2 separate regions of the Homo sapiens genome follow, and region 2 is linked to region 1. The links come from fine-mapping of genetic effects on gene expression. Tissue or cell type: whole blood. Region 1 holds a variant in brackets; the other region holds the start of a gene. All regions are shown on one strand. Distances are between the middles of the regions.

The links. PIP is the estimated chance that this variant, and not a neighbour inherited with it, causes the effect.
Region 2: it holds the start of ANKRD22, and the variant in region 1 is fine-mapped to the expression of ANKRD22 in whole blood (INTERVAL, PIP above 0.99).

Annotation. Positions count from the first base shown.
Region 1 is chr10:88,905,124-88,913,123 of GRCh38, forward strand. STAMBPL1 (STAM binding protein like 1) reads left to right here. Exons shown (of 11, transcript NM_020799.4): 3 at 320-537; 4 at 3,579-3,654; 5 at 5,793-5,888; 6 at 7,978-8,000. Among named protein-coding and RNA genes, the nearest start is that of ACTA2-AS1, 24 kb to the right of the region's middle. The variant G/A (reference allele first, on the strand shown) is at 4,345.
Region 2 is chr10:88,848,517-88,856,626 of GRCh38, forward strand. It overlaps ANKRD22 (ankyrin repeat domain 22), which reads right to left and starts at 3,328. Exons shown (of 6, transcript NM_144590.3): 1 at 3,071-3,328. The coding sequence starts at 3,091.

The DNA of each region.
Region 1 (8,000 bases):
GATATGAGGAGCAATGATATTTTACCTAAAATGACCTGAAACATTTGCATACCCTGAAACCTAAAGTGAGATCCCACTCCAATAAAACTGTATGTTTACCTTGGAGGTTTGTCTTTTTGTTGTATAAACCATGTATTTTTGTTGTATAAAGCATGTTTAAGCAAAAATGCTTTACTTTGATTATATCATTAACTTATGAAAAGATTTCCTTAGGTAATGGTGTTAGGTTCCTCATAAAGAACATATGTCCATAATATTAGTCATATCCTTTTCTTACTATAATCAACAGTTAATCAGAGATTTAAATTTTGCTTTGCAGAAAAAGTTAGCTGCTATGCCTGACCATACAGATGTTTCCCTAAGCCCAGAAGAGCGAGTCCGTGCCCTAAGCAAGCTTGGTTGTAATATCACCATCAGTGAAGACATCACTCCACGACGTTACTTTAGGTCTGGAGTAGAGATGGAGAGGATGGCGTCTGTGTATTTGGAAGAAGGAAATTTGGAAAATGCCTTTGTTCTTTATAATAAATTTATAACGTAAGTGTTTTAAAGGCCTCTGAAGTGAGAAAATTGGAAAAATATTTACATAGTTATTTTGATGTGGCAGTTTGGGTATCAGTAATGTTTTCATATTCAGACCAATTGCACAGTCTCTAGGAGCATTAAATGTTCAAGTTTTTAAATTACCAACTAATGTACTCACAGGCATCCCAACACCATCTCTGAGGCTTAGGGTCAGGGAGGGCAGGAGGCTCAGGGTTATCAGATTTCCTTTCCAAGGCCAGCATAGTAATCTATTTAATACATGTTTCACTCTTCTTAAATATAATTTATTTTTTCATGCGATTTTCCCCGACAGAAATGGAAGCTTTATGAGAGCAGGAACTACAGTGCAGCTCCATTTATAGCACCTAGAACATGCCATCAACATTTAAAAAATTTGATTTGGTGGGTTGAGTCTAGGGGACAAGTTGGGAGACACAGGAAAGATCTGATTCAGGTTCAGGGATAGGTTCAGGAAACTCATTCAAGTTTCATATAGCACTTATTATTTCTTTTTAAAAAACATTTTATTTGGCTATTAAGAACACTATGTACAAAAGAGCTGTCAAAATGTTGAGTAAAAGTGGCTACATCAAAACAGCCATGTCAGAGTATCATGTTTCCTATTAGACAGATATTTGTTAGTGACATATCCTAGTTTAAGAGTTAACAGAAATGGGACTTCGTCTTTCCTTACTATAAATCTGGTAACTTACTAGTTGAAAGGATGTCCTGTCATCAATAATTATATCTTCTAAGATGAACCTTCTTTTTTTTAATTGAAAGTCACATGCCGATTACTTTTGCTAGCTTATTATTTATTAATTTTATTTAAGTTGACAAATAAAAATTATATGTATTTGTGGTATGCAACATGTTTTGATACATATATGCTTATATTGTGGAATGACCAAGTCAAGACAATTAACATATTTATTACCTCACAGACCTTTTATTGAGACAGGGTCTCCCTGTTGCACAGGCTGAGTGCAGTGGCACAATCATAGCTCACTGCAGCCTCGACCTCCCTGGCTCAAGTGATCCTCCCACCTCAGCCTCCCGAGTAGCTGGGACTACAGGCATGTGTCACCATGCTCAGCTAATTTTTTATTTTTGTAGAGATGGGATCTTACTATGTTGCCCAGGCTGATCTCCAACTCCTGGATGCAAGTGATCCTCCTGCTTTGACCTCCCAAAGTCCTGGGATTATAGGCATGAGCTACTGTGCCAGACCCAAGCTGCATAATTATGCAATACATTGTTATTAAGTATAATCATCATATACACTGGACCTCCTGAACTTATTCCTCCTGTCTAACTGAAATTTTGTATCCTTTGACCAACATCTCACCCCCATCCTCAACTGCTGGAACTCTGATAGCTACCAGACTACTCTCTGCCCCCCTGTGAATTCAACTATTTTAGATTCCTTCTACATTGTAAGTGAGATCATGCAGTATTTGTGTTTCTGTGCCTGGCTTATTTCACATATAATATCACTAGCTTAGTCAGGGGCTTAGCCTGAGAACATTTAAGAAGTTGAAAGATACAATATTTTAAAAATTGCCTTCCATGATTCTACCGAGGGCAAAATTAAAGGCAGTTTACATGGTATGCAAAAATTGAGATCTGCATTTTATTCAAGTTACTGAACTTGAAAATTTAGAGAATGGTTGGCAACCTTCACCCTACCTGGGAAAATCACTTGTTTTTAGAAAGTTAAGTAATAAATATGAAATTAGAAGTTATTCTCCACCATTGATAGCCAAACTTTTCCAATAATTTTTGTTTCTGAATAAGTTACCAATTAATAATATTTCTTTTTCACCTTCTGCTCTGATCTTGCATATGTTCCTATGGAATTGTGAGCCTGGTGAAAAGGAAAAGGCCCCTATATCTCAGAATTACTGTGTAATCAAAATATTTGAATTCTCTTGTATTATTAGTTGTATGATAATTTGTAATTCACTTATTCTTCCTGGGCCTTAGTTCCTCATCTACAAATGAAAGATTTATGGGAGAAAATCTCTGAGGTCCCCTCTGCTCTAAATGTCTTTGAATTTATTCTATTTATAAAGGCTTAGATAGCTAACAACTTTTAAAGCTTCTTTAAGCCTTAATTTTCTCATTTAAAATGGGAATTATGCTAACATTTCTGTCTAACCTATAACCTTGTGATCAGATGAAATTAAATGATGAGTATATGTGTGTATGATTTGATTTACAGAATCAGTAAGTATAAGGCATATTGTTTGATCAGAAATAGCATTTACAGCTCATTATGATTTATCAAGGAAGGGTTATTCATTCATTTTGCAAATATTTATTGAGCACTTATTATGAGCTGGATGCTATTCTTCAGGCTGAGGATACATCAGTGCATAAAAAAGAGAATTCCCTGCCTTTGTGGTAGCAGTTTCTTCACTTTACCTGGAAGCGATGCACCTGGTTTGCTGTAGGAATTTCCTTTCACTGCTGCTGTCTCTTGTTCCTCAAACGGTGACGAAAAATAATGAATTCCTAATTAGCAACTCCTAATTCACTAGGGATTCTGGTTGTCACTTTTCTTAGTTATGAGTTTTCGGTTAAGAGTTTTTTGATACACGATGGCGCTGCTGATTCATCAGTGGTCGTTTGAGTTTTTTTCAAGAGTGAGAAGGGATTTACATCACTCTTTCCATGCTCTGATATTTTTATGTGATTCTCTCTGTTGCCAGCAGTATGCTAAAGTAAGGTGGTGCTCTTTTGGGGCTAAGCATGCAGTACCTGAGAAAGATCAAAGTGACTTGAACTGTTTGGAAAGTACCCTGACCTTAATCTTGTTAGCTTTGGTGCTTAGTTGGTTGAGCTTAACCATTAATACCAAAATAATACTCATGCCAGACTTTAGTGAAAAGGCAGATGGCAAGACTGAAGGTAAATGAATAAGTTATTAAACATGTCATTTTTGAAAAAGGATCCTCATTCCCTTATTAGAAAGCATTATTGAACTTTTGCTGTCACATAATGCTAAGGACATGTTTTCTCTTCCTTAGCTTATTTGTAGAAAAGCTTCCTAACCATCGAGATTACCAGCAATGTGCAGTACCTGAAAAGCAGGATATTATGAAGGTATTGTGGGTTTTCTTCTCCACTGTGGAATCAAATGCTCCATAAGTATCCATTATTGATTCACCCTTCCCCTTCCTCCCCTTTCTCTTTCTCTTGAGAGTTTGAGCGCAAGAAATTCATTCCATTAACTATGATGTTTCGATTTTTTCTTAGACATTTAATGATCATCACTGAGCCAGTGTGGTTTGTCTAATTGATGCTGGGGGAAAAGAAAGAAATACGTTACCTAATAGTGTGAGGAAGGAATTATTTTACAATAATCTCTCCCAGAGGTTAAGAGAATGTTGTGTATTTCTGCGAACTTCTTTCAGATGGTCATTTTGGCTGCTTTTGATTATTTTATACAGCCCTGAACTCAATAACTGTTTGAAAATTAGTGTTAGTTATTAAGGCAGCCACAAAGTTCTAGCTATTTACATCTTATAGGACTGGAATTATAGATTAGAAAGTGTTGTGGGGGAAGCAGGAGGTGGTAGACTAAAATACTATAAAGGAAAAAGAGTGTTGCAATTTATCATCAATTTTTTAATGATTTATCACCAATAATTGCTATATCTATAATTTTGGTTATGTCTAGCTGTGAATATATTCTTTTAAATAAACATTTACAATGTTTCCCATTTATTTGTCTTTAATAGTTTGTGTTGGTCTTATATGAAGGAAGATAAAATCATGTACACAAAGCCAATT[G/A]TAGCATGAAATTTTAAATAATTTTTGAAAAACACTTTACCAAATAATGAAATAAAGGCTTTCCTATGAGTATTTTCAGACCTGAGGATGCATAAGCAAAATGCAGATTTTGTCAAATGGTCATCTACATTATTTATTTATTTATTTATTTAGAGTCAGAGTCTTGCTCTGTCACCTAGGCTGGAGTGAAGTGGCGCAATCTCGGCTCACTGCAACCCCCGCCTCCTGGGTTCAAGCAATTCTCTGCCTCAGCTTCCTGAGTAGCTGGGATTACAGGCACCTGCCACCATGCCCAGCTAATTTTTGTATTTTTAATAGAGATGGGGTTTCACCATGTTGGCCAGGCTGGTCTTGAACTCCTGACCTCAAGTGATCCACCTGCCTCTGCCTCCCAAAGTGTTAGGATTACAGGTGTGAGCCACCGCACCCAGCCAACTTTTTTAATGTCTACAGTCACTTACCTGAAGTATCATTTATTATCATGTCTTTGTGTAACATTTCCCCTCAGTTCTCTTGTTCATTCAACCTCAGAGAGTTCTGTTTGGAAACCAAAGGTACCAGGCTGTCACGGTGACTCATGTACTATAACTTAGGGTTATGCTTATTTTTTTTGTAGGAGAAAAATTCTCCAAAACCATATACATTTCCCTTGTTTATGCTTATTGAATAGATATATGAATAAATACATAAATGAATGACAAAGGATTAAGAGAATAGAAATTTGGTGAAAGAGCTAGAGTCAGGAGACTTGAGTTCCAGTCCTAAATGGGCCGCTAGCTGGTTGCATAATACCGAACAGGACTTTCAGTCTCTCCAGGCCTTTGTATCCTCAACTCTAAAAAAGAAGAGGTAGTTGGACTATATAAGAATTCCCAGATTTTCCTGCCATTAACGATCTCTGAGGAAGCTGTTTGAGATCCAGATTCCCAGACCCCTTCTCTACAGGTGTTAATTCAGTAGATCCAGATTAGGCTTGGGGGGGTCTGTATTTTTATAAAAAGTGCCTCAGCTATTCTTTTTACAGTCTAGCATGTCTGGAAATCCCTATCCACCATATATTCTCTCACATCCCTTCTAATTCTGATGCTACATGATTTATGTACTATAGAACAAGTCATTGATCTCAAACTCACTGCCTAAAAATGGGGTACCACAAAGGTAGCCACAAAGTTCTAGCTATTTACATTTTATAGCATTGGGCTATAACAAAATGCTTATCCAATCAGTGGGGCCAATAAAGGTCTTACAAAAGGGATAATAGTGTTTCTTTCCTGCTGGAAAGTTATATTTTGGACCCATAAAAAAGAGATTTATTTTTCTGCCATCATCTTTGGTTACTCATGACTTTATTTGCAGTATACCTACCAGCTGTTTTTCTTTCTCACCTGATGATCTGAAAGAGTGTATTGAAAATCCCACTAATCAATATGTATATATATTTTTAAAAGAAACTGAAGGAGATTGCATTCCCAAGGACAGATGAATTGAAAAACGACCTTTTAAAGAAATATAACGTAGAATACCAAGAATATTTGCAAAGCAAAGTAAGTTCAGTTGGTACATTTATTTCATGACTATTTTATGTACAAGTATTTTTTGAATTTCATTTTTATGTGATGAGTTTTTCAAATGTTTTGTGCATTTAAATTAAAAATTAAAGATGCAGTGATATGGAACCAATAAAAAATTTATGCTGATATCCAGGTTAAGCAGTTTCACCAACAATGTGGTATTTCTATTTCCCTACAATATCTAACAAAGCAATGTGTTAGAAAACAGATTTCCTGCAGCGATTTAAGTAGAACTTTTTGATTAACTCTTGAGCCAGATAACCTTGAGCCAGATGGCTGCTCTTTTGCCAGATGAACAGCCAGTAGGAGGTAGGGAGAGCAGTATATGGTTTCTGATGTGCCTAATGATGTAGGCCTTAGAAATGTGAATTTGATTCTTAGAATGTTACAGTCAGTATTGCATTGAGATAGAATAACAGCTAACCTTGTGGTTGAAATGTAATCATATCACCCAAAAGTGGTGGCTTCTGGATTGTTATTAATAAAGAGTGAACATTATGATAATGTCTGAGAGGCAGAAAGGCATTGGAAGAAGAAATTGGCCAGTGAATGTATGGGATACTCACGTTCAACATAGCATCATTATAGATGTTATTTTGCTTTTTTGTTTGTGTTTTATTTGCTTTAGGGGTTACCACCTTCACTGACTCTCACTTCAGTTCAATCTCATCATCTCTGAGAATGCTCATTGAGCTTTTTGACTTTCTATGGGCATAGGTGGAAGGCTGGCTTGAGTGGAGAGTTTTAACGAAGTGGTAGAGGGAATGGTGAAATTGGAAATGTCCCTCAAGTGTGTATATTAATAATGTGACTTGAAATATGAAAGATAGAAATTTTCTTGGAGGGTAAGACAAAGCAACAACAGCAAGGGAGACGAAAGCCCAGTTCAAGTCTCCTTTCCACGGTCAGCAATGTGTATGATCTTCCTCTTCATGATCTTCCTGGGAGGAACAGGCTCTGCAGCTGTTGCATGTTTTGCCTTTGATACCAGTCACTTCATAGCCTACAGTGGTGACCCATGTGGGAATCTCTGTGGGTTTAGAATAGCAGGACTGAGCCTAGGAGAGATAAACAGCAATGCCTGTGAGCCCTTGCTTCACCAGCATTAGCATCATTTGGAAGCTTGTTAGACACGCAGAATCTCAGGCCCCACCCCAGACCTGCTGAATCAGGATTTGCAACTGCAATTAGCCCCAGGATGATTTGTATGCACCTGAATGTGCCACTATAAGCTGTGTCCCCCATGCTACCGCCATCTTACAGTAGCTCCCAAATCTAGTTTCTATCAAAATCACCTGAAAGGCTCATTAATATTTCATATTATCTGACCTAATAAGCCTGGATATTTTGTTAGAACTGGAGAGCTTGGGACTCCTCCTTTTTAGCAAAACTCTGGGTTAGTGGTGACAGAGAAGGTTGGAACACATTTTAATAACCATTTTTTAGTGATTCCTTCTTATCCATAAATTTCCAGCAGAGTATGAGTTCTAGAGTCAAATGCGAAAGGTTCTAGGGCAGCACTGTTCAATAGAACTCCTGTGATGATGGAAGTGTTCTGTTTGGCACTTTCCAATATGGTATCCACTAGCCACATGTGGCTTCTGGGTACTTAAATGTGACTGACTAGTGTCCCTGAGGTACTGAATTTCTAATTTTGTTTAATTTTAATCAAGTTCAAATAACCACATGTGGCTAGTGGCCACTATATTAGAAGTGCAGTAGGGGTGAGATATTTTGTTTCATATGGTCTTGTTGGTCTGACTGAGCAAACAACCTTGACGTTGATTTTCCAGTATTTAAAAGCATTAGGGAATGAAGGGATCCTGATTGTCATGGCCTGTCTCTGGTAAAATATCAGTGGATTTAGAACTGCTATGTTAATCAGATCAAGGGGCTTTTGCCCTGATGTTATGTATTTCTCTCACTGTTCCATGAGTGTCCCTGTGGGCATATCACAGTATCTAGCATTTTCTCTGTCTGCTTGAAGACTGAAAATGTCTAATTCCAGTTCAATGTTTCTCCTTGGAAACTAACCTTCTCTTCTGGCTGCCACACTTTTTAGAACAAATATAAAGCTGAAATTCT
Region 2 (8,110 bases), 57 kb before region 1:
ATACATAAACAAGGTAGATGGAGAGAGCTGGGAAGATTGTGAGAATGCAATTTTTTCCCCATTGTCTCTGCCTAGCCTTTCTCATATCACAGAATGACACGATGTTAAATGTGAAACCAGATCTCATTCAGCTCTCTTGTTTTGTAATATTAAAACTGTGACTCAGAGAGGTTAAATGACTTCCTCTCAAATCCCTTGAAGTTCCTGGCACAATCAGGTCTAAAATATAGGATTGCTTGACTTTCAGTCCAATGGCCATTCAATTAGTCACATCTCTATTCCTGTATTCCCTGACTTCTCCTCCTCAACTGTACCAGCTTTTCCAATAAAACTTGCTTGATCTAAATTGCTCTCCCTAGGCATTGTATATTTCAAGACAATCTTTCTGTTTTTTGAACTATATTTCCTTTTTCTGTAGTAACATCAGCTTCTCTGAAAAACATATCCATTGCCAAAGGATTAATTTTAAGTTTGTGTGTGTGCATGTGCATGTGTGTGTGTGTGTGTGTGTGGGTGTGTGTGCATCCTTTTACTTACAGCCTTATAATGAGAACTTCCCAATGTTTAAAGGAATACATCATTTAAGATATGATTTTCAAGAAACGCTTTTTGGGGCCTGTGTCTGCAACTGAAGAGACCAAAAGTCTGTAAAAGATTCTTTAAGTCTCCTAAGTATTAGTTCCTGAACTCTTTTAAGTTCTCAGCATTTTTCTTCTTTCCGATTTTTGTGCTACTTCACAATGCAACAGTTCTCTGTTGCAAGGTAGCAGTAGAATGTACCTCATTGGACCTGGATTTAGTTTACTCATTCTTTCCACTAAGGGAACAGGGCACCATCCTGGTTAGAACAGTGGCAGAACACCAGAGTGGTTAAGACCAATTCTCTTATGGAGCATGACATATCTGTTGAAATAACAAGTAGTAGAAAAATTTAGTAGTTCAGCAGTGATGTAAGAAGAATCTCTTTGAATGAGTAAACACAGGACTCATCCTAGCCACCAATCTCCAGCCAATAAGCACTTTTCAACTGTGTAACTATGAGCCAGTGACTACCTTTTCCTCAGTTTCTTCATTTGTAAAATAAGGATACTAAAAGTGACTCTTACAAGATTGCTGTATTAAATGAGTTAATACATATATAAAGTGCTTAAAATAGGGCCTAATCTATAAGAAGCCCTAAATACATGTTTGTTGCTATTGTAAATATTATGAACAAATACCTTTGATAAGGGTTTAAATGAATCAGCCTTGTTTAAAAGTCCATCTTACGCAGTTGGAGTTACTTATTCAAAATTAGGGCCTCTCACTGAGCTCTAAGCTTATCCTCTAGTGCAGATTTCAGGACCAGCTCTCTGGGATCCTCCCTCATTCTCTCCTTCTTTCTTAAAAATATATATTGCATAACTATTAGCACTGCAAAGCTCTAAGGAAAAATGATAACCCTATGTCCCCAATCTAGAGGAGCTTCCCGCACTCAAATTGGGGGAAGTTTTTTTTTTTTTTTTGAATAGATTCTTCCAGGCAACATAGGACCAGGGATCCAGCAGGCTTTTTTCTTGTCCTTAATGAGTAGCTCACAATCTTTATCCTTAGGAAACACAGAGCAAATGATATATTACAAATGAGTAGGCTATGTTTAAATATTTAAGAGATTACTATTTAATTTTAAAGAGTCTCAAACTCTTTAAAACTATAGATGAAAGGTCCTACTTCCAACTTTCTACATCAGAATACCTGAGGATGAGACTAGGCTTTTTTTTTTCCTTTTTCCAAATCACATATAATTCCCACATGCAATCTGAAAAAGCAACCAAAATGCAGAATCTTAGGTCCCACCCAGGTCTACAAACTAAGAATCTGCATTTAAACAAGACCTTCAGAAGATCTGTATAGACATTAAAAACGGGAAAGCACTGGCCTGTGGCAGTCTTTCTTTCTCAGGATGGTGGTAAACAGATCACCCCTATGTCAGAACCACCTGGGATGCTCCTTTTAAAAAGTATACTTTTGTATCCTACCATAGACTGAGTGAAACAGACTCTCTGGGTTGGAGTCCCTTGAAACTGCATTTCAAACAAACTTCTCTCCCTGACACTTGGGCAGTCTAAAGTTTGAGAGTTACCAGAGTAGCATTTAAAAGCACTATATGTTTTGTCATTTTCATGTATATGATCCCTTCATGAGGCTAAAATCACTGAGCAAGACATACCTAGAGTTATAAACCAATCAAACACTGCATTTGCACACACGGAGAGATATATACACACATGGCATTAGAAATAACTGCAAATAAACTGTCTTTAATACTAGATCAAAACTATCCAAGAAGGTTCCCCTGAGCATCTGCAATGAAATGCAGATTAACCAGTTAATTGTGTCAGAGGAGAGAGAGAGTAAATTATGTATAATGACATCATTACACCTCTTGTACTCTTGTCTAAACATTCCTTGCTTGTACTTTCTTGAAACATCATTAAAAATCCATTTGATTCTAATAAGTTACTTCCAATACAAGTAAAAGTACCTCAGTATTTATCAGATGTGAAAAGAAAATAATCAAATCATCAAAATATGTTATTATTCCTCTTCTTCATAGTGATAGTCTTTACTAATATTTACTAAAGGTGAATCTCCCTTCAAATACCAAGCTGAAAGGCATTACTCTGGTCATGTGGTTCCATAAAAGAGGCAGTCAATCTTTTGGATATTTAGAAAATCCAATTGAGTACAATTTTCTCTTTTTCTCTGAGTGTTTGTCATGAGAAAAGCACAACTCAAACTCGATTTTGTCCAAATTATCCTTGCAAACATCCAGATACTATGAAATGTGTATTATATTCATCTCAACTTAGATCTAGCTAATATTTTAGAATTACAAAATACTTTGTCTTAAACTATTAAGAATATCAACAAGAATAACACATAGGACTTTATTTTTTCTGACTTAATGCTCCCCCAGGGAGTTGAACAGACAAAACAGAAATATATTAACAGGGATAGAAAATTGCATCTGAAAAGCATGAGTAACTTTTAACATCTTTGGAACTCTGCTTTCAGAAAGGTGATGTACCTCAGAGTATAGGATTCCCATGCTGGTCCTTCACAGGCTTACTTCACCTCTACAGCTCCTTGAATCTTCTGGAGGTATTTCTGATGAATATCAAAATCCTTCCTGGCTGAGAGGAAAGTCCCTAGAAGTCCAAGCTGGTGGCAAGCTCCAGGAGTGCTTTTCTAGCAAACACCTGTCAGTGCTTTTCCAGCAGCTCAGGCAGCAGCACACCTTCCAGAGAGCCCAGCCCAATGAAACAAAGGCACTGGTGTCATGTGTAACGACCCAAGCCTGTATCATCTAATGTTACAACCCTGAGGAGCCGGTTTCTGAGTCATATTTGCTCTGCCAGTGGTAACATGCAGGAAAGAAGGAAGCAAAGTTAAGGGAGGAAGAAAAGTTCTTACATTGGCAGGAAGGACTCACGGTTCAAACCAAGATACTGTATTTCAGACATTTCGTAATCAAAATCTGGTTTTCAGTGGCCATTGAGAAAGGCTAGAGACCAACAAACTTACTTGTGAGAGCCACACGTGTCTGGCAAAGAACTTGAAAAATAATCTTCAAAATTCTCAGCCTAACAAGTAACGCTTTTCCAGCTATTTATGCAGTTTTGTAAACTAATAAATTTACTAACATAATAAATCTTAAGTTGTTTTAAATATTCCAATACTATTCACACATTTAGCCAAATTACTTTATAATATTCAATTTAAAAATCATAAGTCTAAAATCAAATACTCTGTTATGCATTTTAAATTGCATCATCAATTTATTTATCAAACATGCTAGTATGCCCAATCTCTTAAATATTGTAAACATTTTATATGCTATATATGATATCATTCACACATTTTCCTTGAACTGAATACAATCACATCAAACTTTCCCAGAATTGAAACACTCGACCGTCCACACACCCATTATAACCATGGGACCAGCCCAAATGGGCCGTACTTTGTTGATAACAAATGTCAATTTACTCTGTAGATATAACAGAGCCAAAAACTGTAAGTCATTTAGCCCAGGCATGCACAATAAAAATGTTTTTGCCTCTAACAGAACCTAGAACAAATGATCCCTCCCCTGGGAACCAAGAAGACAAGGACATGACGGGAACCTAAATGCAGGACCTCTTTCAGAAGCTAGGGGCTCATTGGCCCAAAAGATCCAGGGCTGAAATCTGCCTCAACATACCTTACCTTTAGTGGTCAAATTTGAAGCCCTTCAATCAGTCCCTGCCAAACCAACATTCCTAAATCCTTTCCCTCACCCTCTAAGCCATACATTTTCTCAGATTCCAAACTGGGGAGGCAGATTTGAGCCCACCTCCTGTCTCCTTGCTGACCTGTCTTGCAATAAAGTTTTTCTTTCCTCAAAACCCAGTGTCCAGATATTGGCTTCTGTGAGCAGGGGGCAGCAAGCCTATTTGCTCAATAATATCATGGAAGAAATAGTTCAACCATCTCAAACCAATTGATGTGATTTTCCCAATCAGTTGAGGCTCCTTAGTGGCCAGAAACTAGTGACCAGGATACTAGGCCTGTGCTTATAAATATTCAGGGAAATTCTTCTTACTCCACTGGTGGATATACTGAGCTATTTTTATAATTATTTCAAAGATTTTATGTTTCACTATGCAGTTGACATCGAGGCCAGCCTCTCTGGAGTTTAAGAATTAGCTAATTCTTCCGTTGGAGGAGAGGGAAGTCTGCAATACCCACTAAAATTGCAGCTGACTTCCTCTTTGGCTTGGTTTGATTTTGTATTTCTGTAGACTCTTAAGACATTTAAGTGTCTTCCCATTGACTTAGAAAAACATTAATGGTATATCCATTGGGTACTTCACTCTGTTATGCAATATTTTGTAACCTCTGGTAGCCTCTTTTGTAACCTCTTTCAACTAATTTGTGTGGACAGAACTCTTCACTGTCATTGCTTCTCTCCTAAGGTTGCTGCTAGCTTTCTTCTTCAAGCTCTTTCCTCCCTGACTGAGCTCTAAATGTTTCTTTAACTTTCAATCAGGATCAAAACTCATTTTATTAGATTCTGCATCTCTTGACAACATCTGGTTCTAAAGGAACAGTACTCATTATAATTGCAAATGATGTAGGGTTAGCTCAAAAAACAAACCAATGAAAAAAGCAGTTGACTCATTGTTATTTGTAAAACACTTGGATTTAACTCTAGGCCATTGGGTCTCAACCAGGGGTTATCTCGCCCCCAGATAGACTGCAGATTTAGCAACGAAAAAGATAAGATGTTCAGTTAAATTTGAATTTCAGATAAATTTCTGAAATGTCATATGGGACATACATACACTAAAAAATTATGTTGCTTAATGGAGAACGTCGTTTTATTGGAAACTAAAGACATTTGGCAATGTCTGGAGACATTTTTGGTGGTCACAACTAGGAGTGGGAGCATGGTACTCTAATGTGGGGAGCAGAGGCCAGGGAAGCTGCTAATCATCCTACAGTGCACAGGACAGCCTCTCAGAGCAAAGAATTACCCAGCTCAGAAGAGTGCTAATGTAGAGAAACTCTAGTCTAAGCCAAAAGGAGAATTAAAGGTGAAGGAAGAGGACTTCGTAAACTATAGTGTCAAATTGGAATACGGAGGCATATTGTCAGAATGAAGTTGGATAAACAGATATATTTTTAAGTGTTTAGGGTTCTTCCTCTGGCAATTTTGAGCCTATAATTACAAAGACAGGTAAAGAAAAGAAGTTCCAGAAAACAGCTTTCACAGGTAAATGTCTTCTGTCAAGAAATAACACTGTCAAGAAGACAAATGTCTTCTGTCAAGAAATAAACCTAGTGTTTAATCTGAATTAAACACTAGGGACTTAAAATTAGTGGCATCCTTTGATCCTGGCTGTAAATGCAGCCAACCTCCACTGACCAGCAGCCAACTGTCTGTGAGAGATGAGTCTCTTGTAAGGTGTATCCCAAAGACTTCCCCCCAAGAGGGGTTCAGTAGAGCATAACAAAGAAGTATAGTCCACAGAAACTCAGTTTTACGCTGATATCTTAATCCTTCAACATTATCTAACATTGTCCAACATTGACATTAGCAGTGGAAGTTATCTGAGTCACACGGCACCAAAATATGTCACCAGCCAGCAGTGAATCTGTGTGGGTTTGCAGCAAACTCAATTCTTGCCTTCTCAGAAGAAAGAATTCAACTGGGGGCCATAGGATGGAAGAAGAGACCAAGGCAAGTTTTAGAGCAGGAGCGACAGTTTATTAAAAAGCTTTAGAGCAGGAATAAACAAAGTAAAGTACATTTGGAAGAGGACCAAGTGGGCAACTTGAAAGACAAGTGTGCAGTTTGACTTTTGACTCGGGGTTTTTATACGTTGGCATACTTCCAGGGTCCTGCATTCCTTCTCCCCTGATTCTGCCCTTTGGTGGGCTGTCCACATGTGCAGTGGCCCACCAGGATTTGGGAGGGGAGCATGCACAGTGTGTTTACTGGAGTTGTATGCATGCTTACTTGAAGCACTCTTCTCTTACCAGCTGAATGTCCCTAGAAGGTAATATACCAGTTAAACTCTGCCATTCTGCCTCTTAATGTGCATGCTTGAACCCACTCGCCCAACTCCTGAGATCTTATCAGGAAGCTGCTGATCACCAGTTTCAAGTTTTTTCTGTCTATTGGGAGACTGCCTTTCCCTGGCACTGGCTGTGACCAATTGTTATTTTATATATATATATATATATATATATATATATATAATTTTTTTTTTTTTGAGATGGAGTCTTGCTCTGTTGCCCAGGCTGGAGTGCAGTGGTACAATCACAGCTCATTACAACCTCCACCTCCCAGGTTCAAGCGATTCTCCTGCCTCAGCTTCCAGAGTCGCTGGGATTACAGACACCTGCCACCTGTATTTTTGTATTTTTAGTAGAGACGGGGTTTCACCATGTTGGCCAGGCTGGTCTCAAACTCCTGACCTGAGGTGATCTGCCCACCTCGACCTCCTAAAGTGCTGGAATTGCAAGCATGAGCCACCACGCCTGGCCCTCAACTATTATTTTAGAGAGACGGTTAACAACCTCCTTACTATCACCTGATGTTCACCTGACATTCCTGGTGGGTGGGGGGAGCCCTCTCCTACTCTGCTCATGTCTGACTAGCTACTTACTGTAAAATTGGCTCCCATTGGAGAGATTTGAGTAGAGGAGTGTTGTAATCAGAATTTTATTTATATAATAAAGCTCACTCTGGCTGTTGTACAGAGAGTGGATCTGAGGCAGGAAAAAAGAAACAGCAACTAGTTAGGAGGTTATTGCATTAGGTCAGCTGCATGATAATAGTTACCTGGGGCAGAAGAGCAGCAGTGTGGATAGAGAGAATAGGATAAACTCTAGAGTTTAGGAGGTAGAAATAACAGACTTTGCCAACTATGAGTTATTAAGCTATCTCCTAGCATTGAACACACTTTTCTATGTTTGGTTCTTCAATGCCTACCCTGGCATTCTGCAAGCTAGCTTTTTTTTTTTCCTACTGGTATGTGGAGACAAAATTAACTTCATCTTGGATGCTAATCCACCATGTTGACTTCTCATTAACCCCAGTCCCATAAATGCCTTCGGATTCCTACTTTATTTACTGTCCTTAGTGTAAGAACACATACTTACTGTAAATCCTGCCTTTAGACCAAAGCAAACTTGATGTTATCACACAAATATAGGTTATGATGCACACAGCACTCTTGCCTGTTCTGGGGGGTTGTCTTTAATTGTCTCTATAGAGCATGTATCCCCTTTCCTTATGATATATAAGCCCGGGGTCTGGGGTGTATTGGTGTGGAGATCTATTTGTCTTGCTACTGCAGGCCACACTTCTGTCTGTAAGTTCCCCCAATAAATTACCCTTTATCAAAAAACTGATTTTGTCTGCCTTATTATTTGGTTTCTTGGCTCCTTCCTTGTTTGGAGATTGCTTTGCATATATGACCCTTTCTTGAAACCTGGTCTATTTTCTAAGGAGCACTCCATGTGAGATTACAACGCTAAAGAGGGAGAAAGAGATCTACTCATTTCTATATGCTTG